Homo sapiens: one gene and its partners. The protein of the gene in region 2 interacts with the protein of the main gene of each other region in a pairwise test. Each region holds a gene or a part of one and is shown on either strand. Other genes may lie near its edges.

Evidence for each region.
Region 1: the proteins of ESRRG (region 2) and UBL7 interact in binary tests that used the Homo sapiens proteins (3 or more experiments, as listed by UniProt).
Region 3: the proteins of ESRRG (region 2) and NUP160 interact in binary tests that used the Homo sapiens proteins (3 or more experiments, as listed by UniProt).
Region 4: the proteins of ESRRG (region 2) and DEUP1 interact in binary tests that used the Homo sapiens proteins (3 or more experiments, as listed by UniProt).

The regions. Positions count from the first base shown.
Region 1 is NC_000015.10:74,458,152-74,465,011, reverse strand, and holds the start of UBL7 (ubiquitin-like protein 7), read left to right. Parts: upstream 1-3,851; 5' UTR 3,852-3,975; exon of another isoform or gene 3,976-4,253; coding exon of another isoform or gene 4,254-4,344; intron 4,345-5,908; exon of another isoform or gene 5,909-5,993; intron 5,994-6,115; coding exon of another isoform or gene 6,116-6,144; coding exon 6,145-6,328; intron 6,329-6,860.
Region 2 is NC_000001.11:216,713,416-216,720,448, reverse strand, and holds part of ESRRG (estrogen-related receptor gamma), read left to right. Parts: intron 1-5,199; exon of another isoform or gene 5,200-5,375; intron 5,376-5,814; exon of another isoform or gene 5,815-5,933; intron 5,934-7,033. UniProt on the Homo sapiens protein: Orphan receptor that acts as a transcription activator in the absence of bound ligand. Binds specifically to an estrogen response element and activates reporter genes controlled by estrogen response elements.
Region 3 is NC_000011.10:47,777,618-47,782,383, reverse strand, and holds the end of NUP160 (nuclear pore complex protein Nup160), read left to right. Parts: intron 1-1,936; coding exon 1,937-2,041; intron 2,042-3,189; coding exon 3,190-3,279; 3' UTR 3,280-4,266; downstream 4,267-4,766. UniProt on the Homo sapiens protein: Functions as a component of the nuclear pore complex (NPC). Involved in poly(A)+ RNA transport.
Region 4 is NC_000011.10:93,325,893-93,333,758, reverse strand, and holds the start of DEUP1 (deuterosome assembly protein 1), read right to left. Parts: upstream 3,018-7,866; 5' UTR 2,987-3,017; intron 1,544-2,986; 5' UTR 1,500-1,543; coding exon 1,471-1,499; intron 1-1,470. UniProt on the Homo sapiens protein: Key structural component of the deuterosome, a structure that promotes de novo centriole amplification in multiciliated cells.

The DNA of each region.
Region 1 (6,860 bases), on a different chromosome or scaffold from region 2:
AGCAACCCATAAAACCAAAAGCCAAAACCAAACCCAACCTCTGTAGTCTTGAATTTGAAGTAGCAGTATAAATATTCTCTATTTATATCTCTATGGATATAGATCTCCCCCTAGCTCCATCCACTAATGTGGCTTACAAGTAACAAACAATTCAGTAGCAATAAGCATCCCTAGTGCCCAGATTGTGGTCTTAATATACCATTTCCCACAGAAAACCATATGAATTTCTTGAAGAAATGGCTAATTTTTATGCCTAGGGCAGGAAGTACAAGATTAGCTAGGAACTCTTGTCATGCTAGATAGCAGGGAGCTATCAAAAACCTCCAGGGTTATGTCAAAAGGACTCAAGAATCAAGTTGAAGAGGAGGCTCCATTGTTATGGTACTGTATTAGTCTGTTCTTGCACTGCTATAAAGAACTACCTGAGACCAGGTGATTTATAAAGAAAAGTGCTTTAATTGACGCACAGTTCTGCAGGCTATACAGGAAGCATGGCTGGGGAAGCCACAGGAAACATACAATCATGGCAGAACGTGAAGGGGAAGCAAGCACATCTTCACATGGCAGAGCAGGAGAGAGAGGGCAAAGGGGGAAGTGCTACACACTTTTGAACAACCAGATCTCTTGAGAACTCACTGTCATGAGAACAGCAAGGGGGAAGTCTGCCCCATGATCCAAACATCATGACCTCCCACCAGGCCCCTCCTCCAACATTGAGGATTACAATTCAACATGAGATTTGGGTGGGGACACAGAGCCAAACCATATCAGGTACCATGAATGTCAACATGAGAAAATACAAGTATATTGTGGAAAATGAGAATCAAGTTTCCTACTATTGCAGAAGGGAGGTAAAATTATAGAGAAGAGGAAGACTAGAGGAAAATATGTGGTATTGGATTGGAATTTGAGGTATTGGTGTGAACTCATATTTTATATATACATATATATTTTGATATATGTGCACATATATATGCTCACATATACATAGATCTATATATACATATACACATCTATATGCACACATATTTAAATATATTTCATAGAAATATAGATGAATGGGTGTGTATATCAATATTCATTTATTTGCTAGGTCTAGTCACTGAAATAGACTGGAAATAATGACATCTCAGTAGCAATAAACACACCTAGCATCCAAACTTGGCTTCTAAATACCATTCCTTACTAAAAGGAACTAAGGCTCTTTGGAGAAATGAATGATGTGACAGATGTGAAAATCTATGACATAACTTATGAAAATGGCAGAGAGATGATCAGCCTCCACCCAACTGGAATGGTTGATGAAAGCTGAATGAGATTGTAAGTTACATGGTATTATTGTATTTATTAATTTCTTGATTTTGCTGGGTTGTACTGTGGCTGTGACATAGAATATATCCTTGTTTTCAGGAAATACAGAAATACTTTGGGTAATGTCTGTAATTGGCTCTTAAACGGATCGGGTGGAAAAACAAAAGAACAATATGCATAGTGAGAGAGTGAGAGAGAAAGAATGATGAGGTAAATGTAAACTATTAACAACTGGGGACTTTGGGTTAAGGGTATGAGGGCATTATTTTGTAATATTTTTGCAACTGTACTGTAAACTTGAAATTATTTCAAAGTAAAAAGTCTCAAGAATATTTGAGCACAGGGGAAATATTCAAGCTAGGTAAAATATGTAGATTACTAAACAAATGTACAGTGTAATCTAAATTTTGTTGAATATACATATTTAAGATTCAGTAAAATTATACTTTTAGAAGCATAAAACAAAGTTAACAATTGTCATCTATTGGTGATAGAATAGCCATGCCCCTCTTAAAGCCAAAAGGCTAGCAGATATCAAGACCTACTCTAAAGTTAGAGAAATCAAGACGTGTGACATTGGCACAATGACAGAAAAATACACCCATGGCACAGAATAAGAGTCAAAAATTGACCCAGACATACATAGTCACCGGATTTATGACAAAGCTGCCACTGAAATTCAGTGGGAACAAAATTTTTAAATAGTGCTGGATCAATTGTACACCCATATGGAAGAGATGAATCTTGATGTCTAACTCCTATCATATACAAAGATTAATGTGAAATTAATCATAGACCTAAATGTGAAAGATAAAATAACACAGAAGAAAACCTAGGATAGTATCTTCATAACGAGGGCAGGCAAAGATTTCTTACATAGGACACAAAAGGCACTAACCATCACAACAAAATTTCAGGCCGGGCGTGGTGGCTACCGCTTGTAATCCCAGCACTTTGGGATCACCTGAGGTCAGGAGTTCGAGCAGCCTGGCCAACGTGGTGAAACCCCGTCTCTACTAAAAATACAAAAATTAGCCGGGCGTGGTGGCAGGTACCTGTAGCCCCAGCTCCTCAAGAGGCTGAGGCATGAGAATCTCTTGAACCCGGGAGGCGGAGGGTGCAGTGAGCCGAGATCGGCCACTACTGCACTCCAATCTGGGCGACAGAGCAAGACTCCGTCTCAAAAAAAAAAAAAAGTTTTAAAATGAAATTAAATTATCTAATACCATTAAGAGTAAAAAAAAAATCATGAACTGGGAAAGTATTCACAATATATAATTTTGATAAATTATGGAGCTCAGGTGCAAGTAACTTAGTAGGCAGGAGAGGAAGGAGTCTAAAGAAGTCTAGTTAGGAAGGATTACTGAAAGAGGGGGTATATCTAAAAATGGGTAGGATGGGAAAGGGAGACTTTGGGAACAGCCATGGGTTCCTAATGCGCCCACAACATACATGGGAGTTATCCTGAAGATAAACTCCCTGAAGACAGTGAAAGCCATTTCAAAACTCCCCATATAACTTATGAGAACAGAGGGGTGATCTGCCTTTAATGTTAGGCCTTCTGAGATCCTGCGATCTGTTCGCTCTCCTCAGTAACATTACCCTGCTCAATTGCTGCCTTAATCCCAGGTCGCACATTGGAATGTGGGAATTCAGCGTTTACATTTACCCACACAGGATCAGCCTTCAGCTGCTACGATCAACTTCAGTATTTTCATATAATCACTTTTTTCTTTCCTTAGTTCTTGAATTATTAATTCCTTGAGAAGAGTCCAATCAGAGGTAGTCTTTCTTCAGTATTTTCGGTAATCCTAATTTCTGTGCAAAAAAATTTCTGTTCCATTTTAACCGTGCAGAACTTTCTGTTATCTAAAACACAGTTTCTCTATGAGAGTTCAGTGAAAATTCCCCTTCCCAAACTGATTCTATGAATGACTGTTAGATAAGCTTCACCACTGCATGTAGAGGGTGTACCAGGAACCCAAGTTAGTAGCTCTCCTCAAAGACCCAACTTTTGGAGGGGGTCATCGTCTGGTTCCTGGTATGCCTCCACAGGTAGGTCCGCCTCAGGAAGTCAGCGGCGAGGAGCACAGAAGAGGCTGCCTTCACCAACGGACAGCAGTTTTCATCGTGAGGGCCGTCGGCAACCGCTTGGATGTGTCTAAAGGGGCCGTTTGGGAACCGGCCCTTCTGGAGGGAAGGGTCGGAGTGGGAGGGGATCCGGGATCCGCCTTACGGCCGAGTGTCCAGCAGCGCGTTCCAACCTGGCAGAACCGACGTACTTCATATGCTCCTCAGGGGAGCGCGGGAATCACCAGGCTGAAGAATGACTGGAAATGGGACCCTCTCCAACCAAAGCACCCAGACATTCCGGCGCCGGACATTTCAAAGAGCGCGGAAGCCACGCCTTCCCCCAGAACCGGAAGCTTTGCAACTAGCGCCTCTTGTAGACTGGCTGTTTATAAGGGGGCGGGGGGCCACAGCGGGAACTGCAACTCCCAGAATGCAGCGCGGAATTTCCGGTTTCCGGCGAGAGGGCCAGAGTGAGTGTTTACACCGGCGGCAGTGCGGCCGGGTTCCTTCCGCGGGACGGGTGAGGGCGCTGGGGCCCTGGGCAGCGCGGGCTCGATGTGTGTCAGCCAAGTAGCTGGTCCCACTGGAGCGGTGAGGTCGCCACCGGATAGTGTTCCTGCCCCATTACTAGCGATCTGTGACCTTGGGCCAGTGATTTTACTGAGTCTTGCTTCCCTCATCTTTAAAATGTGGCTAATGCCTGCCTTAGGGAACCGTTGTGAGGATTAAGTGAGACATGGTATATAAAACGACCTCCTTCTGGCATAAACTTGAGGTGGAAGATACCTTGAGGATGCTTGAAGGTCTGCTAGGCAGCTTCACAGCCTTTTCTTTCCTCTTCTCTATCAGAGGTCTCTTTGGAAGCAATAATGATGACTATAACAAGAACTTATCTTGCTTTGCAAGATTCTTCCGCCGTCAGAGTTTCTGATTTATTTTCTGGGGTTCCATGTATGCCAGGTATGGGGACAAGGATGAAGAAAACTTTAGTCTTTTGTTTTCAAGGGCATTCAAGAATTGGGGTGGAGGAGGGGGCAAGCAGATATTTGTAGCCCTTTTGTTCTGAGGGGATGTGGGAACAACAGAGGAAAGAGAGGGGACTGAGGTTATTGAATCTGTGTTGGTTTCGGTAGGAGTTTGCTAAAAGGCCAAAAAGGGAAGAGAAATTACATGCAGAGTTAGATGAGCAGAGGTGTAAAATAGGGGAGAGCTTTGTTATGAGTGTGTACTTACATGTTGTGGAGGTCCTTTGCAGGGGTAGGGCTCTGTTGGGGAATGAGGCTGGCAGGGAGTTTTGTAAGCCAGGCGATGAAGTTTAGACTTAATTTATATAGATGGTTTAGAGGTATTGGAAGAGGTCTTTTTCTGGGGGGCCGGGGTGGGGCAGGGAGGGACGGAGTCTCTGTCGCCCAAGCTGGAGTGCAGTGGCGCTATCTCGGCTCACTGCAACCTCCACCTCCCGGGTTCAAGCAATTCTCCTGCCTCAGCCTCTCAAGTAGCTGGGATTACAAGCGCCTGCCACCACGCCCTGCAAATTTTTTCTATTATAGTAGAGATGTAGTTTCACCATGTTGGCCAGGCTGGTTTCAAACACCTGATCTTAAGTGATCCGTCCTCCGCGGCCTCCCAAAGTGACAGGATTACAGGTGTGAGCCACCGCGTCTGGCTTTTTTTTTTTTTTTTTTTTTTTTTTTTGCGACAGAGTCTCTCTCTGTCACCCAGGCTGGAGTGCAGTGACGTGATCTTGGCTCACTGCAACCTCAGCCTTCCGAGTAGGTGGCACTACAGGTGCGCACTACCACGCCCAGCTAATTTTTGTATTTTTAGTAGTGACGGGTTTCACCATGTTGGCCAGGCTGGTCTTGAACTCTTGAGCTTAGGCAATCCGCCCGCCTAGGCCTCTCAAAGTGCTAGGGTTACAGGCATGAGCCACCGCGCCCAGCCCGACATTGGAAGAGTTCTAAGCAGAGAAGTGACTTGGTCAGATCTGTGTTTTAGAATGATGGGTTGTGGCCAGGCGCAGTCGCTCATGCCTGTAATCCCAGCACTTTGGGAGGCCGAGGCAGGTGGATCACGAGGTCAGGAGATCGAGACCATCCTGGCTAACACAGTGAAACCCCGTCTCTACTAAAAGTACAAAAAAAAAAAAAAATTAGCCTGGCGTCGTGGCGGGTGCCTGTAGTCCCTGCTACCTGGGAGGCTGAGGCAGGAAGGCAGGAGAATGGCGTGAACCTGGGAGGTGGAGCTTGCAGTGAGCCGAGATCGCGCCGCTGCACTCCAGCCTGGGCAACAGAGCGAGACTCCGTCTCAAAAAAAAAAAAAAAAATGATGGGTGTTGTTAGGTGGCAGCATAGATATTTGATAGGGAGAGGCAAGAGGCAGGGAACTTGTTATAAAGCTGTTCTACTGGTTCAAGCAACAGTTGAAGAAAATTGGAAAAAGGGGCATACAGAAGGGAGAGGGTTAGATGATCTCTCTCACAACATTCCTATTAGATTGGATGGCGTTTTTATGTCCACGTTAGGGATGAAGAAACTGAGGCCTAGAGAGCTGTCCATCACAGTATGAGTAGAGAGAGAACCCCAGATTCTAGTTCTGGCCTCCTGATGGTACGCCCTATGCCTCTTCAACAGTGTCACATTGAATTGTCTTTCATTCAACCCTTTGGTGGGTGGGGGTGGAGTAGAGTGGTGGTCTGTCTTTTAACCACTGAGGTTTTGTTCTTTTACAGGGAGAAAGAGAGAGCGCGAAAGAGAGAGGATGTCTCTCTCAGACTGGCACCTGGCGGTGAAGCTGGCTGACCAGCCACTTACTCCAAAGTCTATTCTTCGGTTGCCAGAGACAGAACTGGGAGAATACTCGCTAGGGGGCTATAGTATTTCATTTCTGAAGCAGCTTATTGCTGGCAAACTCCAGGAGTCTGTTCCAGACCCTGAGCTGATTGGTGAGTCTCTCTGGACTGGGGTTGGGCTGCTGCTCTGATCTCTTTTGGGGGAGGATACTTCTGGAATTACAAGAGTAAAGTAAGGGCTTGGGATTTGTTGCCTCATAATGTTAACACTCCAGGGAAGTGAATGTTGGGTAAATAGAAACACAAATCATATAATGAAACTATTGGTTGCCATTTCAGCCATGTATTATACTGAACTACCTTATCACCAGGTTCTTTATGACATTGTCTTGTTTTTTGTTTTTGTTTTTGTTTTGCTGTGTAGCCCAGGCTGGAGTGCAGTGGTGCGATCTCGGCTCACTGCAACCTCTGTCTCCTGGGTCCCAGTTCAAGCAATTCTGCCTCAGCCTCCCGAGTAGCTGGGATTACAGGCACACACCACCATGCCCAGCTAATTTTTGTATTTTTAGTAGAGACATGGGATTTCACCATGTTGGCCAGGCTGGTCTTGAACTCCTAACCTTGTGATTCTGCCCGCCTCAGCCTCCCAAAATGCTGGGATTACAGGCATGAGCCACCGCTCCTG
Region 2 (7,033 bases):
AGTAAGAATACTTAAACTCTAGACTTGGAGCTCACATGACTTTTCTTCATGTTTTGTTTTTTATTTTTTTTCCCTACAATCTTGAAAACACCTGCAGCCTTAAAGGTATGTGGTGTTGGTGGAGTTTTCAGATGATTTCTCTGTAAACTGCTTGAAGTGACAATCAGCTGCAATTAGTTGTGAGCATTCTTGAGCTGTAGTTTTGTAACCTTGCCCATTACATTACTAAAGTGAGCGGATTAATTCTATTTTCCTAAAAATTAAGTAATCATTGTACATGTTCCAAACTATATATAGTTGAAATGGCCAGATGACTAGTATTATGTAACATATGATTTTCTCCTTGAAGTAAACAACAAAAAAACAACTGTTCCTGAGTTAATGAAATATATATTGAATGGGAGTGGTGGATAAATGATGGGTACCCCATGTTCCACTAGCCCTTTGTGTCAGGGTATTTATGTATTACCCTATACACATTTGGTGGTAAGTTTAAAAATCCCTTTTTTATAGAAAGGACTAAGAAACAGCTTTCATTTCCTGGGCAGAGCTAAGGGTGATGGTGTTGGCTATTTCTTCTTACAGTGATGGTTTCTCATCTTAATGTGTTTATGGCACTGCTGCTTTATTTACTGAGCCTAGTGTGTTGCAGCGGTAATTAACCCATGTTATTAGCAAAGCCCTTGTGGATATCCATTAATTCTCTTGCATGGATGATCATTTTTCTAGTGTTTTCCCCAAATAAGGTATCATTGTTCTGTTTTTTTCCCTAAATTGACGGCATTTGATATATTTCTTTGATTTAATCTGACCTGTAATATATATTGGTCATTTTATAAAGAATAATAATTAACTCAGCTTTTAAAAATGCTAATAGAAGCAGGAGGAAAGATTTTTTTGTTGTTGTTCTTTTTAAAGTGAAAAAAGAAAAGAAAAGAAGGTTTAAAAATAATGCAGGAAATCAGCTTTAACTCTAAATTTTTCAGATCTTACAATTTATAACAATTTATATCTTTGAGGTATTTTAATCAGTTTTTTTCTTACTTAGTTAATAACACTTCAGGCATTTTTGTAAAATATTGAGCCAGCAGAAAAATACTTGTGCTTCCTGGCTGAGAAAAGATAAGGACCATCTCATTAGCCGGGCCATACTTTTGCAATTAATTTTAGATACCTGGTGCTATTCATCAAAGAAGGAAGCTAACTTCTCTATGATTCTATTTAACAATACTTTTGCAATACCTCACTCCTGCAAGAATTACAGACAAAGAAGAAGCCATTCTTTTGGAAGGTAGGCATAATGCCCAATCTCAAGTCCGTATCACTTACGAAAAATTCCTCAACATTTGTTTTAGCTCAATGACTAAAGAAAATATTTCTCTGTCTTACTTGTAAAGTGATGTTAAGCACTGAAGGTTTTGCTTTGTATTATTTTATAAAATAAATTATATGCTGATGAGAGATACTTTTTCATACAAATGGCAATTAATAGCAATGATTTCTATTAAACCAATTAATATCAAATAAACTTTTTAGCATCACTTATCCAGCTTTTAGAAATAAGAGGAGAGGATCTGAGGGATCTCAGTAGAACTTTAGAGTCATTGCAGCAGATAAGCTTTGCTCTGAATTTTGCTTCATAGCAAATTCATGGAAGAGAGAAACAATACAATGTTGATCTATTATAAGTGCGTATGAGCTCCGGCCCTAGCCAGCTCTCTGGAGAAAATCTTTGATTACACTGGCCCAGTTTGTTCCATTTTTATCTCTTTTACATCCACTGGCATTGTATTAAATTGTCATGTCCTAAAGCACAACAGATAGAATGAATTGCAGTTCTCTACATTCTCTGACAGTGAGATATTTAGCCTCTCTTTCTCCAATCATACTTATGTGTATATTTGATAGTGCAAGGATGACACCAAGCATCTCTGCTGCTTGACAATCTTTCCATTGCATTTTGTATGTTTTTGTCATTGATTTTTTTGATAGCCATGTATATGTGGATATACATGAACTATACTATTATTAATAAATAAATACACACATGGTACTTTAAAACTCAAAGCAGTCGATAGGATACCCAGGAGTATATTTGTGTGCATGTATAGTATGCATGTGAAATATGCATGTATGTGGGAAGAGGTAATGTATACGTAGATTATAGGTATGCTGCTAAAAGTATTCATGTACATTTATATAATAAAGTAGATCTCAAGTATTATTCTAATCAGTTAGTTGCCAGTTAAATTTGCCAGGCATGATTTTAACCTGGAATTGGTATTTCAGGTATTTACAGATCTGATTTTAATCTGAGTTTACTTAACTACTGTGTGTTAGACAGGTAACAGGTAACCTAGTAAGTCAATTTGTTTCTGATTTTAGAATTTTCACATTATTGTTATTCATGTATTCAGTATCTGGAAATCATAAATAATTTGTAAAATAGGAAAGAAACTACTGATATTAAATGTATAATTTAATGGTTTGGGCCCATATCCAAGAAACAATTTTGAATTAGCTCTTGGCTACATTCTTTTCTTACACAATTGGGCCTGACAAATACATCTTAATGTAAAGCATGATAGCTTTCAAACAAATGCAAAATATGAATTTCCTTTATCTGTACTACATAAACATATCATTTGCTCTTTTTCTAAAAGCAAATATATAAAACTATAAGTATTATATTTCTATAAAGTACATTATAGATTTCAGAATTATTTAATTTTATTCTAAGAGGTAAGTTTAGAAGTCTGTGAATTTACTTAGTAAATGACTGTTGAGAGAAAGCACTTATGCAATTGCTTTTTCTATTCTAATTCTTGTTCTAATTCATGTTCTTTTTAAAATTCCTAGATTCATTGCCTACCTTTATTTATTTGCATAACATTTTAACAAATTTACTGCTATTGTGTTTTTAAAAAAATTCTGCTAACCGCTTCTTTATGCCAATCTATCAGATCAAAGTTAGCTCCTTTATTATCTGAGGGTGGGAAATGACAGCCTTTTGAAGGATTTACCTGGCCTTTTATTCTTGTTTCAAGTTCATTTTTAGTCTTGTACTTTGTAAGGTCTAGGAAACCTAAGCTAATAAAATAATTTCCATTCAGAGTTTTAGCACACACATCTCTCCACTCTACTTTTTCTTTCCAGAAGTGACACATGTTTCTTGTCCTATGATTTGGACAATATTTCTCAGTATTTTCCAAATGTGTTTTCTAATCAATTATCCAGGATTTTCCAAAAGTATCTTCCACTCAATTATCCAAAACTATTGAATTGAGAGAGTTTAGATTTATTGAGTGTTGTATATATGTGTGTATATACACAAATTTCCCCTTATAATGTTTAAAAATAATTTTAAATGTTTGAGGGAAACTTGCTTTTGATGTTTTGATTTCTTCAAATGATATGTCATTTTAATTTATGACAATGCATGTATACTTGGAAGGTAACTTACTGAGGCAAAACAATGAAAGAAAAGGTACAGTTTTAAAGAAATTGGCTTCCTTCTGGTCAGTTAAAGTCCATTTCAGTATACTGGCAAAGATCTATATGTGCATTTGAATGTAGCTATAAACCACGCAACACTAACAATTAGAAATACAACCTATGGCTATATGGAATTCTTTCAAACAATATAGAAAAGGAAAACACTTGGTTTTGGCATTTAAAAAATTTTAAATACCTATTAAATTGCCAAAACTTACAGGGAGCCTACTTCAGATTAGATTAAATTCTAAAAGAAGAACTGAAAAGTACATTTATATTTTAATTATAAAAAACAGTCTTTGTCATATATATTCCTCTGTGACTTCTCATTTTTCTTTGAGTGAAACAAAATTTCATATATACTTTTCATCATTTTGGTTGGAAGTACACATTATGTGTAATATGCTTTGGCAGGACTTACCTAGCCAAAGAAAACAAATTAATATTGGGCATACTGAGGGCTGTCAGGCATATCACAGACATGTCAATTTAACTTTGCTTCATTATACACCTTTTCTGCAAACAGTTGGCTAAGATGGTACTAAATAAAAGGGAAGCTACCAATAAATTCTCATATCAGATTGATGGCTAGTATAAATGTAATGAAAAAACAGCTTGCTTGCTTACTTATCTTTAAAAATGAACTGTAGGAATACAGATAGCATAGATAGCAATAAGTTTCCAAGAAAAAAATAAATTAGGTTCATTCAAATTTTTCTACTACCTTGAAAGTAAAATAGGTTTAGAAAGACAAAAGTCTCTGAAGTGGTGAACCTCAGTGGCTCTTATTTATGAAGTAAATAAAAACTTGAAGAAGTGGAGAATCCAAAGGAACACGGACAATCCACCTTTATCAGGGGACACCTCTTTTTGTTGCACTTTGCATATGTTTTCTGGAAAACAAAAAAATCTTACGCTTTCTTTTTGTATGGCATATTCAATATGCAAAAACAAAAGAAAATTAAAATATAAATTAAGAACTTATGTACAGAAAATAGGCAGAAGCACACTAAATTCTTTTTTTCCATGATCACAACAATACCTTTGTAAATGATAATTCCTTTTTCATCTACTCTAGAAAGATTTTACTCATTTTTCATGGCTTTTGAGAATTTGAACAAAGGATTCATTAAAGAAATATGTATTTTTTTCATACTCACAATGTGAGTTAAAATATCTTAAAAGGATACTTTTCAAGGCAGTTATTATGTAACAATATTTATAAGAACTTATGTTGCTTTGAAAATAATAGTAAATGCATATTAGTCATATATCCAGAACTGCATCCAAAATTAACCAAAATAACAGGTCATATAAAAAATTATAGACTGAGGTACTCATTAAAGAGAAAAAAAATAAACTGTGAGGTTGTTCAATTGATTGCCCTTTGCCCTCCATAATTCCAAATTATCCTAGTACATTAACTTCTCCAAAAATGTAAGATGGGCATGTTAAATTGTATTCATTTTCACATAAATAAAAGAATATTCTGATAATTTTTAATTTCTTTTCAGCCATTAATCCATTAAAACAGATCAGATATTTTGAGGAGGAATATCATACCCGTAACCAACTGTTCATGACCAAAGAAAGGGAAAGATGTATATGGTTGGTGAGAACCATGTCTTTTTCCTATGAGAAAGTGACTGTATACAGTTGGTGCTGGGTCCTATGAAATGACGGAAACATCCCTTTTATCCATAGACTTGAATGAGACCTGCCTCATCAGTCATGGGATCATAGTGTCACAGATGGAAAAGCAACTATCAGCTGAATTGTACTGAACTACACACTTGGCTAATTCATCTTATTGCTCTACACATCTAAAGGAAGGCTCATTCTGTTCTTGGAGTCTAGACAGCATCAGGAGTTGGGCTCAGGTGGGAGCATGTGGCCGCCTTTTTCTGTTCTCTCGTAGTCATTCAGCAAAGGGAGGTGAGGAACAAATGGACAATTTATGCACAGAAGCTCAGGCAGAGATTCTTTCCTAGGGTCAGGAATTTGTTGTTACTCAGTCATTCAAGTAGATTTCCGATTTCTCTTATGCTCTAGAAATGTCATTGTTATCTTTCATGCTCCAAAGTACTACCCGTAAATGATTAGGTGTGTCTTTCAATTCGTATGAGCCATGACCTAGTTTAAGCATTTTTTAATAGATAGAAATGGAGAACAGATCATCTATTTACATTAATGTGAATGATGATTCTTTTTTCATGTCTTTATATTGAACTATTCAGTTGGTTAAGTCTGAAGAATAAGACAAATAATAAGAGGTTAAAAACTCAAATTGTATTTTTTTATTTCTTTATTTTCTTATAGTGAACAAAACTTTAATGTCTAGAGCATTTATGAGGGTTTTAATGATTGGAAAATCTATCCTGAGAATGTGGTCACCATATGTGACAGCCTTGCTTTCTATCTTGTCTTCAGTTTCTGGGGTAAGTTCGGTGATATTGTCTATTGTCTTCCTTTGCTTACATTATAGAACTTCTCTGCTGCCACATTGAGATAACCTGAAGTGTGGGGGGAATGCCTGCTAAGTTCTAAAACACTTTCCTAAACACCTTCCCTTCCTCTATCCCGGCAGTATTTTCCTTTACAATTTCTGTTTCTATTCATCTGTTTTATTAAAGGGTCATTTACTTTGGTAAAAGGTAAGTGCATGATATTCACCCATATTTGCATACAGAGTACACCTGATTTTCCCTCTGAATTCCAAAGAGATTGCCTTCAACTTTTTATATTTGTTTTTCTTTTTGTTTCTGTTTGTAGTGCATTCTAGTTGAGTGCTTTTATAGTGTTTTCTTGATTGTTGTCAGTTTGGGATACTGGAGGCTGACATTTTTGCTAAGTTAATGTTACAGCAGAAAAACCTATGGTAAACTGGAATCTGGCTATAGTGCATAGAAGATACAACTTATGTTTGATTGTGTGTAAATACAGTTAGTTAGTTGGGGGTTTATCAGATAGCTTGGCAGAAAGAGAGAGGAGCAGTACAAACTGTTTTCAGTTAACTGTGCTGTTCATACACCTGATAAGACTGAGAGAGCTTTTCGAAATGCTGATAGGCTTTGAATAAGAAAAGAATAATCACTTCTACTGGCACCAGCTTATCAGGAATGAAGTAAAATGCCAACACTGTTACATTAGCAAAAGTAAATGTTTTAGACACTCTGTGCCTTTTTTCATTCAAGTTAAATAGGAGGGGTGCTTTTGAGTGTGCTGTTATGAATAGAGGGATTTATTACCTTGATGAAATTACAGGTGAATATGTTGATAAAAGAAACTTCAGCATCAACAGCAGCTTCTTTGATAAGCAGGTGCGTCTCTGCTGTACATTCTCTGGAGAAATTAAGTACTCCTTTCTCCACTCCAATTCTATTAAACATCATTTCTGATGTTAGAAGATGCAGTTATGCCCTATGTCAATCCAGTCTCCCTCTTTTTTCAGCAGATGGGTTACAGGTATTTGAAACTTAGCTGATCAGACTTGTAAAATGCTAGTGTGCTCTGGTTAAATAAGTTAGGGCATCTGTGA
Region 3 (4,766 bases), on a different chromosome or scaffold from region 2:
AAGTTGAGGAACATCGGTATAGGCGCATATATATATATATATATATATATATATATATATATATATATATATATATATATTTTTTTTTTTTTTTAACTGAGTTTTGCTCTGTTGCCCAAGCTGGAGTGCAGTGATGCAGCCTCCACTTACTCCCTCACTGCAGCCTCCGCCTCCCGGGTTCAAGTGATTCTCCTGCCTCAGCCTCCTGAGTAGCTGGGATTACAGGCACCTGCCACCACATCCAGCTAATTTTTTAATATTTTTGGTAGAGATGGGGCTTCACCATGTTGGCCAGGCTGGTCTCGGAACTCCTAACCTCAAGTGATCCACCCACCTCGGCCTCCCAAAGTGCTGGGATTACCCATGTGAGCCACCATGCCCGGCCTAGGCATTTCTTTTTATTATCATGCTATGTAAGGTGAGAATCTGAGAGTAAATTGAACTATATGTTAGTGTATTTAACCTTTACTATCTGTAGTTATACAACTAAATATTGACACTCTAGGAATCTCTAGTCTCCTGTTTATAAAATAGGAATTTCATCTTTCTCTATCAAAATAATATGGCATTAGTTAGGATTCAGTGGAGAGAGATAAACAAAATGGTATTGTGTGTGTGCCGGGACTGTGTTAAGTCTCTACAAGCATTTTTTTATTTAATCCTTATAGCAGCCTTATGAAGGAATGTTTTAATTTTCTATTTTTTAACCCATGAGGGAACAGGCTCAGAGGTTATCACAGGCTCATACAGATGGCAAATATAATAGAAGAGCCAGGTCTAAATAGGTGTAGTTAACTACAGCTTCAACCCTCATGAAATCAGCCAGGTGCAATAGCTCACACCTGTAATCCTAGCACTTTCGGAGGTCAAGGTGTGAGGATCGTTTAAACCCAGAGGTTAAGACCAGCCTTGGCAACATAGTGAGAACCTTTATCTACAAAAAATAGAAAAAAATTAGCTGGTCATGGTGGTGCGTGCCTATAGTCCCAGCTATGTGGGAAGCTGAGGTGGGAGGATCACATGAGCCCTGGAGGTTGAGGGTACAGTGAGCTATGATCATGCCACTACACTCCAGCCTGAGTGACAGAGTGAGACCCTGTCTGAAAAAAAAAAGAAAGTTGACATGAAATTATTTTTTATTTTTATTTTTTTATTTTTTCCAAGACGGAGTCTCGCTCTGTCGCCCAGGCTTGAGTGCAGTGGCATGATCTCGGCTCACTGTAACCTCCGCCTCCCGGGTTCAAGCAATTCTTCAGCCTCAGCCTCCCGAGCAGCTGGGACTACATCTGTGCCACCACACCTGGCTAATTTTTGTATTTTTAGTAGAGACGGGGTTTCACCATATTGGCCAGGCTGGTCTCGAACTCCTGACCTTGTGATCCGCCCACCTCGGCCTCCCAAAACGTTGGAATTACAGGCCCAGCCGACATGAATTTTTAAATATATTTAACCGAAAAAAATGACAAGTTTCCCAGTTGGAGAAAAGAGGGTTCCCATTGTGTGCATGCACATGTATACACACAGTTTCTTGTGGTTGGGGGAAAAAATGCATTTTATTTTGCCGGGCACAGTGGCTCACTTTCGGAGGCCAAGGCAGGTGGATCACTTGAGGCCAGGAGTTTGAGACCAGCCTGTCCAACATGGTGAAACCCCATCTCTACTAAAAATAAACATAAAAAAATTAGCTAGGCATGGTGGTGCACATCTGTAGTCCAGCTACTCAAGAGGCTGAGGCACAAGAATTGCTTGAGCCCAGGAGGCGGAGGTTGCAGTGAGCTGAGATTGTGCCACTGCACTCAGCCTGGGCGACAGAACAAGACCATCTCAAAAAAAAAAAAAAAAAGGGTATTTTATTCTACAGAGTCCTATGAAAGCAACTACCCAGAAGAAATGGTACACTTTGCAGACTGTTTTCAAATAAACATTTTCCTTTTAGTTTCCACTGTCCGCAACAGCCCCAATGGTGTGGCTTCCATACTCCTCTATTGATCAGCTTCTCCAAGCTCTGGGAGAGAACAGTGCCAACAGTCACAACATCGCAGTAAGTCAGCCCTTTCATGAGACGTCTTGTGTAAGCCCCTGCACTAGCAGTTACACCTTACAGCTTGATCTTCAGTTCTCCGGGATTAGAAAGGGAAGACAAAAGCCTATTTTTGGCCCTTAACAAACTGCCCAGTCCCTTTATAGATAAGGCAGAGGATCTAAGTAACAGGATCAAGAAAACATAATGAGGAACTGTGTAAGTGTTAATTATACAGAGACAAATGGCAAGCAGTCGGTCCATCCTTTAAAGCTTTTAATTTGGTAGGGCAGACCCTACAAGGTAAACAGGTACTTGAAATACAGCAATGATAGGCCGGGCGCAGTGGCTCACGCCTATAATCCCAGCACTTTGGAAGGCTGAGACGGGCAGATTACCTGAGAGGTCAGGAGTTCGAGATCAGCTTTGCCAACATGGTGAAATTCCATCTCTACTAAATATACCAAAACTAGCCAGGCATGGTGGCGGGCACCTGTAATCCCAGCTACTCGGGAGGCTGAGGCAGGAGAATCGCTTGAACCCAGGAGGCGGAGGTTCCAGTGAGCCAAGATTGCACCACCGCACTCCATCCTAGACAGCAGAGTGAGACTCCATTCCCCCACCCTGAAAAAGAAAGAAATACAGTGTGATAAATTATCACTGTCCTGAGGGAAGTTGGCATATATAACAACATTTCTCAGGAGTCATATATTCACCCTGCTTGCCTTAACATAAAAAACAATAGTGTTTCCTTGAGTCATTATAGTGATGGCTTATTTTGTTTACCAGTGAGATAGAGTGCCTCCTGAGCCTATCTAAAATATTAGTTCTATATTTCACTTGGCAGCTAATAACTAGTTATATCAGATGCAGCATTTCTGGTTCTGAGAAAAGAGTTAGTGATCCTTTTATTAGAAATACTGGTACGATTTCCATACTTAGAAAATTCATTCAGAAAATGAGACTGAAATGTTGTATATAACAGAGAGGCCTAGTTTTATCAGTAGAGTCACAGAGGAGACTCCTATAACAAATGGTGATTTTATGAAGCAGAGTGGCTAACATCTTTATAAGGTGGAATCTACTTGGTGAAGTCAAAGTTATTAATAACTTCAATATTTTTCCATTGTTGAGCTGTTATGTAATGTTTTCCTTCTTTTCTCTTATAGCTGTCCCAGAAAATACTTGACAAATTGGAGGACTACCAGCAAAAAGTTGATAAGGCAACACGGGATTTATTATATCGTCGGACCTTGTGATTTGGATTGTCACCTAGCCTTTGTAACCGCTTGGTGCCTCTTAGGACTTAAGACTACCCTACAGGAACCCTGTACTCAAGGCCGATTTTTGTAACTGTAAATGATGTGTACAACATTCAAGTCTGCATTCTGCACAAGATAGGAGGGCGGAAGAGTCAGAGGACCCTGTGCTTGCTGGTGGTGCTAACACAATTTCTGGTGTTCAACCTTGGTCTCAAATAGCTGCTTTTGTATATGATTCACGAGCTTTTTTAGAGTTTATATTTTTTTAAACTACCGAAGACATTCATTATCTGCAAATTAAGACTCACCTTCACTTTCCAAAATAGCTGAGGGTTGTTGGCTTGTTGTAGCTGACCACCAAAAGCAGTCACTGCAAATCTTTTAATTCTTCCCTATCACCTTTTGTATTTTAATGCAATTATTTTGGTCCAGAACTGACCTGTATTTTCTGTATTGTACACAAAAGCTAATAATTTTGTGTACTTTTTATTTATTTTGGAGGTTTTATATGATCTTCAATTGAGTATTAAATAATTTGCCTAGATTAAGCCTAAAATGATGACCAGCTAATTAAAGAAGATATTTTGAATCTGGTTCTGAGCTAAAGTTGAGTAAATTCTTAGCTAAGAAAAAATTGGAAATCCATCATCTATATTAGCAACAGATTCTCAGAGTAAATTGTTAACTTCTATGATTTATGATAATCAAGCTGGACTTGATCATACAAGTTAGTCTCATAATGTATTGGACCAAAATGTAAACTTCATTGGTCAGATTTAGAAGCATTCATGCTCACAAGTTTTGGGAAAGTGAAAAATAATAAAATCATCTTGGATTTTATTCTGTATATTAAAATTTATCTTTTAAGGAAACAATCTGTATACTACTTGCTTGTATAGCCTTTTGACCCTTCTTGAGTTTTTCAGAAGCCTTTAATTTTTATACTTTCAATACCATATTTACATTATATACTTTAATTAACAATGTGAGTTTCTCTGTGGTACTGTTGTTGATAGATACTGAGGTGTGTGTTTCTTTTTTTTTTTTTTTTTTTTTTTTCATTTTAGCTCTACTATGATTAATACGAGGCATTTGGTGCAATTAGGGACTGGGAGAGCCCCTGTCCTCCCAGCTCTCTAAACCTGTGGCTTTCAACGACAGTAAGAAAGACATTTTGACCTACATACACATATATAACCAAAAGAAAAGTTTCACAAAATTTGTATCCTCACCTACAGTGTATCCTGATGTTTTCATGAGTGACTAATGGATCATAACCCATAGTATGAAAACATCAAGGGCCAGGCGTGGTGGCTAACTCCTATAATCTCAGCACTTTGGGAAGCTGAGGCAGGCGGATCACTTGAGATCAGGAGTTCAAGACCAACGTGGCAAAACCACATCTTTCAAAAAAAAAAAAAAATTAGCTGGTCGCAGTGGTGCGTACCTGTAGTCCCAGCTACTAGAGGGGCTGAGGCGGAAAG
Region 4 (7,866 bases), on a different chromosome or scaffold from region 2:
AGGCATACCTGAATTCAAATCCTACTTTCTCTACTAACCTGGTGTATATTCTAGGATGAGCTCCTGCTTTTTTTGTCTTTCTACCTTTCTGAGCCTCAATGTGGTAGAGGATGCTAGTTTTTCAGCAATATCCATTCTTCCTCCTTTGTTCTAGAACTTCTAAGCTTCATCTGGTCATATGGCTACCTAGTTACAGACCATATTCCCCAGCCTTTCTTGCTGCTAGTTGTAACTCTGGGATAAAGTTCTGGCCAATGGAAAGTGAACAGAAGCGAGACCTGCCATTTCCATGTTATACTCCTAAAAGAAAAGGTCTTACTCTCTCTTCTTGCCTTTCTCCTTCCCTATGGAAGGAGCACAGTCATGATGGCAGAGCACACTTATGATGGTGGGAGCTGAAACAACCACTTTGGTCCTAGAGATAGAAATCATTAATGAAGATGGCAGAGTTGCCAAACCAATCCTGGTCCGTGTATCTTGGGTGAGCGCAGCACCTGTGACGACTATATGAAACAGACATAATCTTCAATCTTATTTAAGCTGCTGTTTTTGGAGTCTCTTTGTTATAAGAGCTTAGACTGTACTCGAATATATTTACTTTTCTTAGTTGTAAAATGAGAATAATACCTAGCAGGGCTGTTGTAAGAAGGAGTATGCAGTGGGAGCTAAAAAGTGATAGCTATGATTATTATCCAAACTTGTGCAGCTTTCTTTCAGCCTGACATCAAAGTTATGGTCTGGGCAGAATTTCTGAAAGTGAGACACCTGAAGTGGTGTGACTAGCGCCAAAGTCAGTTGCAATCAAGATTAGGCACTATACAACCACCCCTTCACCCCTTCATTCCCCAAACTCTGTGTTCAGCCAGTGGTCAGTTGGCTAGTGAAACAATAGGAAGAGAAAACTCTGTGATGCAGGTAGCAGGTAAAGAGTTAGGACAGATATTTGTAAACAGGAATTTGATTTTCTACAATGACAAATGCTATACAAATTTTATTCTTATCTCTTCGTGAAACTTTTGGTAAGATATCTAGTTCTTGATGATGTTTTTACGGAGTTGCATCTATTCTCAGGCTATGTTTAAGTGTTGAGTTCAGCCTTAAGGGGCAAGAGTAGAGGGAAACTTGAGATACTCAATGCGGCAAAAAAGGAGCAAGCTGGCGAAGAAAGGTTGCATTGTGGTAACAGAAGAGCACACGAGGCCTGCCTCCGCATCCACCACCCTTAGATATTGGACAGTCACTAAAAGTTGGAAAACAGTGATTTTTGAGTGCAGATCTGTAGTGTCAAAATCAGAAAGTCTCGCATTATAATCCTTAATTACAGTCACTTCATATTTCCTCTCATCCGCCTCACCAAAAATAATTGGCATATCCTTCTATTAATAGTAAATTTCAAAATTCATGTGTTCTCAGGAAGTTTTTGGCACAGTTAAGCACATACTTATTAAACAGAAATTTCTCAGCACTTACCCCATCGTATTATGGGCTTGGTTCTCCATGTCAAGAAACTGCTACATCTGGTTTATATTTCTTGATTTTTAATCTGTTAGGAGGAAAATGATACAAGTTCCTAAAATGTTTATATTCTTTAACCTATAAAACATGAAAATTTTGCTACTGGCAAAAACCATTTAGTATGAGTTTTTCTGTGTAGTAGCTCTTGATCCTACAAAATATAGAAACCTGAGTTTTCTGTTTTGGTTTTTTGTTTGTTTTTTGAGACGGAGTCTAGCTCTGTGGCCCAGGCTGGAGTGCAGAGGCACGATCTCAGCTCACTGCAACCTCTGCCTCCCAGGTTCTAGCGATTCTCCCACCTCAGCCTCCTGAGTAGCTGGGACAGGCAATCGCCACCATGCCCGGCTAATTTTTGTATTTTTAGTAGGGACGGGGTTTCGCATGTTGATCAGGCTGGTCTCGAACTCCTGACCTCGTGATCCACCCACCTCGGCCTCCCAAACTTGAGTTTTTTGTTTAGCGACCCCTATGCATTTACGATATTGACTTAGTGATTTATTGAAATATGTGGTACGGACTAAAATGAGCATCCATTTACTACTTATTGAATAATAGCTTGTACTACGTTGTTCGCAAACGGCTCAGTACATGAGAATGAGTAAAACAGAATTCCCATTAAAAGAGAAATTCTAGCCAGATGTTCTCAAACTTTCTATTCTTGTGGTTCCCCTAAAGGTGTGCCTTTATTTGAGTACATTCTTTCTTTGGCCCTATCTGGGTTTTGTTAGGATGACTATAACTATGAGATTTAGGACAAAAAGGCTAAGAATGCCTTTAAAAAGAAATCTTGAAATTCTTCAATGGCTCTATGGGCACTGGCTCACCTCTTGACAAAATAGGGATGTTAGCATTTGCCTAAAGTAAAAAAAAAAAAAAAGTTTTTCTCAGTAACACAATTTTAGTTAAAAAATAATCTATGACGATAACTGGAGAAAGTATTGAAAAGGACTTCAACTCCTCCGAATCACTGAATAAAAGTCAATTAAAGAACATTCAAGGAGGTAGAAAGAGGAGGAAGATTCGAGCTCACATCACTTCCAAATCGAAGAGTTTTAAGAGAGACCCTGGAATTAAGAGAGACAGAGCGGAGAGGAGCAGGGATGGTGAAGGAAAACTTGACCAGAAGGAGCAGACCAATAAATGGTTTTGTAGATTCTCAAATATCTCACTTAAACGTCAGGGAAACTGAGGCACAGACAAGTTAAGTGGCTTGCCCAAGGCCACACAACTGAAGCCCAGTCCTTCTAACTTAGGGCGCAGCTCTGCTCTGGATTTGCAAGCGCGGGCCTCCCCTCCCAGCCTCTGTCCCCGCGCCACGCGCCCCTCCAGGACCCGCGCTCGGTTCAAGCCCAGCCTCCCGCAGAGCGGCCGCCCTTTTGGGGTTCCCCTGTCCCGCTCGAGGACCCGCGCAGCCTGGCCTTTGGGTGAGGGTCAGGGGCGAGGCGGGGCCGGGAAGGCCAGGAGCCATTACCTGCGCTGCGCCGCGCTCGCCCGAGAGGTCTGAGGCGAGGGCGCAGGACCGCGTATGTCACCTCCCGCCCCGCCAGGCCCGCCCCAAGGGGCCCCGCCACCCGCCGCCGCGCTCCCGCCGCCTGGGCCCTCCCGCCGCGCGACCAACGAGGCAGTTGGGCCTCTCCCTCCCCGCGCGCGGCGCCGCCGCGTGTTGCCATGGGGACGTCGCGGCCCGAACTCGTGGCCGTCGGAGTGGGGGATGGGCGCGGCGGCGGCGGCAGGCGCTGCCCTGTGCGGCTCCTCGGCTGCCTCCAACCTCACCCCGCGCGAGCGCGACCTCGCTGTCCCGCAGTTATACGTCCAGTGCCCCCTCTATTCTGGGTCCTTTCCTCTTTGTAGTCCCACTGCCTACCCCAAGGCTGGGCACCCAAGCTGCAGCCCGGAAATACTTGTTGAATGAATGAACCAAATAGATCACGAAGGAACTGTAAACCGCTGGGGAGTTCATCATCCAGGTTCCTTAAATCCCCTTGGCCCTCTTTCCTCTTACCCAAATTTGAAGTGGCATGAAAAAGAAATAAACTTCGGGTAAAGAGAACTGCTTTTATCTCCGTTCACCCTAGCGTCTTCCAGCTGGGAGGAGCTGGATTTCACCGCTCAGCCCCTGGTTCCTGTGGTGATAACAGCATCAGCTTGTACCTGACTTTCCCGTCAAGCGCGATGGGTCCTTAAAACACTGCCAGTCAGGCGAACGGACAGTGTTGCCTCCCTTCAGGGAGAAGAGAATAGCTTCTAAGAGGAGAAGCTGGAACGAAACTCAACGGGACTGATTCCAGATTCTTTCCTTTTTCCACCAAATTCCAAGAGTCATTGATGACAGATTTTCTGTCTCCATTTCATAGAGGAAATAATAGGAAAGAATATATGTTTTCCAACTGACATCTTGAGTGATTTGTTTTAAGCACTTGAATTTTGTATTTGATTTATTTTAACCAAATAATTCCTTCCTAACACATGGAGTCGACTACTTAATTCTTAAAGTCTTTTATTTGCACTTTACTTTCATCACTTTAACGCTAATTTGCTACTTTAATATTCTATGAATTTAATGCGCACCCACATCCCTCCGTCCAGGTCCCATCTGAATTTTATAAAACCATTATGCTGTTTCTTGACAAATTGAGCTTCATAGATGAATTGTATACGGTCACCTGGGATATCAGTTCTAACAGGTGTTTCATAGCTCTCATGTTTGCATGAAGAGAGTGACTGTGTTATCTTAACTTGAAACTTTTCATTATTCTGAAAACGCGTATATTCTTTATTCTTATCTGAATTGAATGGGTCAATGTATTTTTTCTAACCCAAGGAAGGGAAAATGGAACTAGGAACGAAATTTAATGAAATCTCAGGATGCCCAAGATCACTAAGGCTATGTAACATTGCTAAGTGCTTCCATGTTCATTATTTCTTTAGAGGCTCAGAAATACACTCAGCAAGTGTATCAGGTGTTATTAATAGCTTCTTTCAGAAGATTAGGAAACCCAGGCTTAGAGAGAATGAAGGATATGTCCATGGATTTGTCCATGGATTTGCACTTGAAATGGATGATACATCAAGATGTAAACCTAGATCATCTTACTCCAAATCCAGTGTTCTCCAAACATTAAGGTTGAGTCGGTTTCTTTAGCAGTCAGGATCTTCCTTAGCAAACTGTAGGTTTAATGTTTTCCTTTTTTTTTTTTTTTTTGAGACGGAGTCTCGCTCTGTTGCCCAGGCTGGAGTGCAGTGGTGCCATCTCGGCTCACTGCAAGCTCCGCCTCCTGGGTTCACGCCATTCTTCTGCCTCAGCCTCCCGAGTAGCTGGGACTACAGGCACCCGCCACCACGCCCGGCTAATTTTTTGTATTTTTAGAAGAGACGGGGTTTCACCGTGTTAGCCAGGATGGTCTCGAACTCCTGACCTCGTGATCCACCCGGCTCGGCCTCCCAAAGTGCTGGGATTACAGGAGTCAGCCACCGCGCCCGGCCAGGTTTCATGTTTTCACATAGAAGAATAGGTGCAGGGGAATGCTTGCAAAAACATTTAAGAAGACACATACTATAATGGATTTTAGGAAAATTTAAATATAGAATAGGAACATCCCATTCAATTTAATACGAATAAAGGTTTTCATTTCAGGATGAGAGTTAAGATTTAAAATGCAAATACCTGTTCCCTACCCTGCTAGTAAGAAGTAACAGTAAAGACTTGAATTCACCTTGAAATGTCCTTATTATTAGATATTTTCAGGTAAGTTTGTTTTGAAAGGGATGAGACCAGGAAAGCTCCAGTCTAAAGGAGAGGAAGAGTGTGGCCAGGGTGGAAATCTTCCTAAACAGGGTTAGTGAGAGTTGACAAGAGAGCTTAGTCATGAAAGAAAATTGGAGGACATGGCAAAATGAGGATAAGATAAAATGTAACCGGAAATGGTCAAAGGAGAATATAGGGGGCATAAATGGATGAAGAATAAGGATGACCTTTGGAAGAAAAGCTAAGGGACCAATTATAGGGAATAAATAATAAAGCAATAGGCTAAACCTTTAAAATTTAAAAACCTTCATAACAAAATCATTTCATGGGAAAATTTATAATAGCAATATAGTAAATGAATGTGCAACTTTAGCATATGCGTGGCTATATAAAATAACTTCATGTCTGTCTTTGTATCAACAAGGAAATATTTATTTTTATATTTTTTAAAAAGCAAGTTTAAAAATTATATATATTCATTATAATTTTAAAAACTAAGTATACCATTATGCATAGAACATACCTTAAAAATTTTTTTAAAACAATTATGATGAAATAATCATAGAATTGTAAGAAACTGTAGAGGAGATACAGTCTAACCCAGGGGTCCCCAACCCCTGGGCTGCATACTGGTACTGGCCAGTGGCCTGTTAGGAACCTGGCCACACAGCAGGAGGTGAGCAGCGGGCAAGCATTACGGCCTGAGCTTTGCCTCCTGTCAGATCAGTGGTGGCATTAGATTCTCATAGAAGCGCGAATCCTATTGTGAACTGCACATGCCAGGGATCTAGTTTGTGCACTCCTTATGAGAATTTAATGCCTGATGATCTGACATGGAACAGTTTCATCCTGAAACCATACCCCCTGGTGCCAAAAAGGTTGGGGACTGCTGGTCTAACCTCTTCATTTTGGATGTGAAGAAACTCAGATCCAAAGAGTTATAATTATTTGATTAGTCTCATTGTTAGTTAATGGCAAACATTTTCAAAGGAATTTTCTGGAGATGCTTAATACACATTCTAGTTGAGAAAATAACCATTCAGCAGGAAGAGATTCAGTATTTAGAACTAAGATCACCTAGAGCAGCACTGTCCAATGGAAATATAATGCAAGCCACTTGTATAATTTTAAATATTCTAGTAGTCAAATTTTAAAAAGTAAAAAACAGATAAAGTTTATTTTAATAACACATTTATTTCATCTAATATATCTAAAATATCATTTTAACACCTAGTCAATATAAAAATTATTGAGATATTTTATATATTTTTTGCATAGTTTTTACTTAAAGCTGAATCAGTTCATTCTGGCCACATGTAGGTGCTTCATAGTCACACATGACTGGTGGCTATCATATTGGACAGGGAAGCTGGAGAACATGGGTGCCTGGTCAATGTCCTAAAGCTCTTCATTAAAGTGTGAAGGGCAATGCAAAGAGAGAGATTCTTAATTATTTGGGGGTGATTTGAGAGAGATTTTGAAAATGTCCTACCTCAGTATCCTTACCAACCTGCTCTGGGCTGCGATAGGCATTAGACGTCTGAAGAGAAATACATAAATTTGAGCCCTTAACCAGGCAGCATGAGGCCTTTCATTGTGTCATGCCTGCTAGGCCTGTCAATCATCACTATCAGGGCTGCTTCTCCTCCTGATGGGACTTTAGAAGCGCCAGGTTTCACTTGAGGATCAGAAAACAAAGCCAAATTCTTTGAAAAAATGGCTATTATGATTTCTAAAATTCTCTACTTTTACTTTTTATGGACTTTTAGAGTTTCGACACTGTGGTTTTGAAAATGTCATCCTTTTTCAGATATTAAGGGGAGCTAAAGGAGAAAGATTTTTGTATAGTCGTGAGCTAAAGTTTTAAAGATGTAATACTTATTTCCTGGAGCCATTCATGACTAGGACAATGTTGAAGTGAAAGGGCCCTAATGGGAAAAACAAATTTGTAACCAGAGAGGAAAGTTGGGCCTGCCTGCTTAATGGCCTCTTTTCACTTGGGTCAACTTCTTCTCTGAGCTCAACTCTGCAGAAACCTTTCGGGTCACTAGCTAATATGATGGAAATTACTGGGTCAAAATATAGGAAAAGACATGAACCTAGAGAAGTGAGCCCAGCACTTAAGGCTGCTTTCAAAGGCATTTGATGCTCTGGAAGAAACAGCTGCAAAACTGAGCAGCCGTTTGATAGTCTTGTGAAAAAAAGGGGCAGAAGACAAAGCCTGGGCTCAATAAATAAATAAACATCCCCTGTCTTTAAGCTGGGGCTCCAGATGACTTTACCCTCAGGAAAATGGTGAGGTGGAAATAAATCGGTACTCCTACTGACTCACAGCCAGCTTGCAATCATCTGTAATTTGGGACAACCTCCATCTTTGAACTCAGAATAGGGTCATACTAGACTGGTAGGTTAAGATACCTGGAAGAAGCAAGCAGGAATTTTCCTAGAAATAACTTCTCAAATACAAAGGCCAGAACAAAAAGAAAAATAGAAATTCTAAAACTAGAAAAAAATTACTAATAACCAAAAATAAGAACACAACAGATATGAATAATGATAGATTTGGTACAGGTGAAGGGATAACCTGTGAATTGGAAAACAGAACA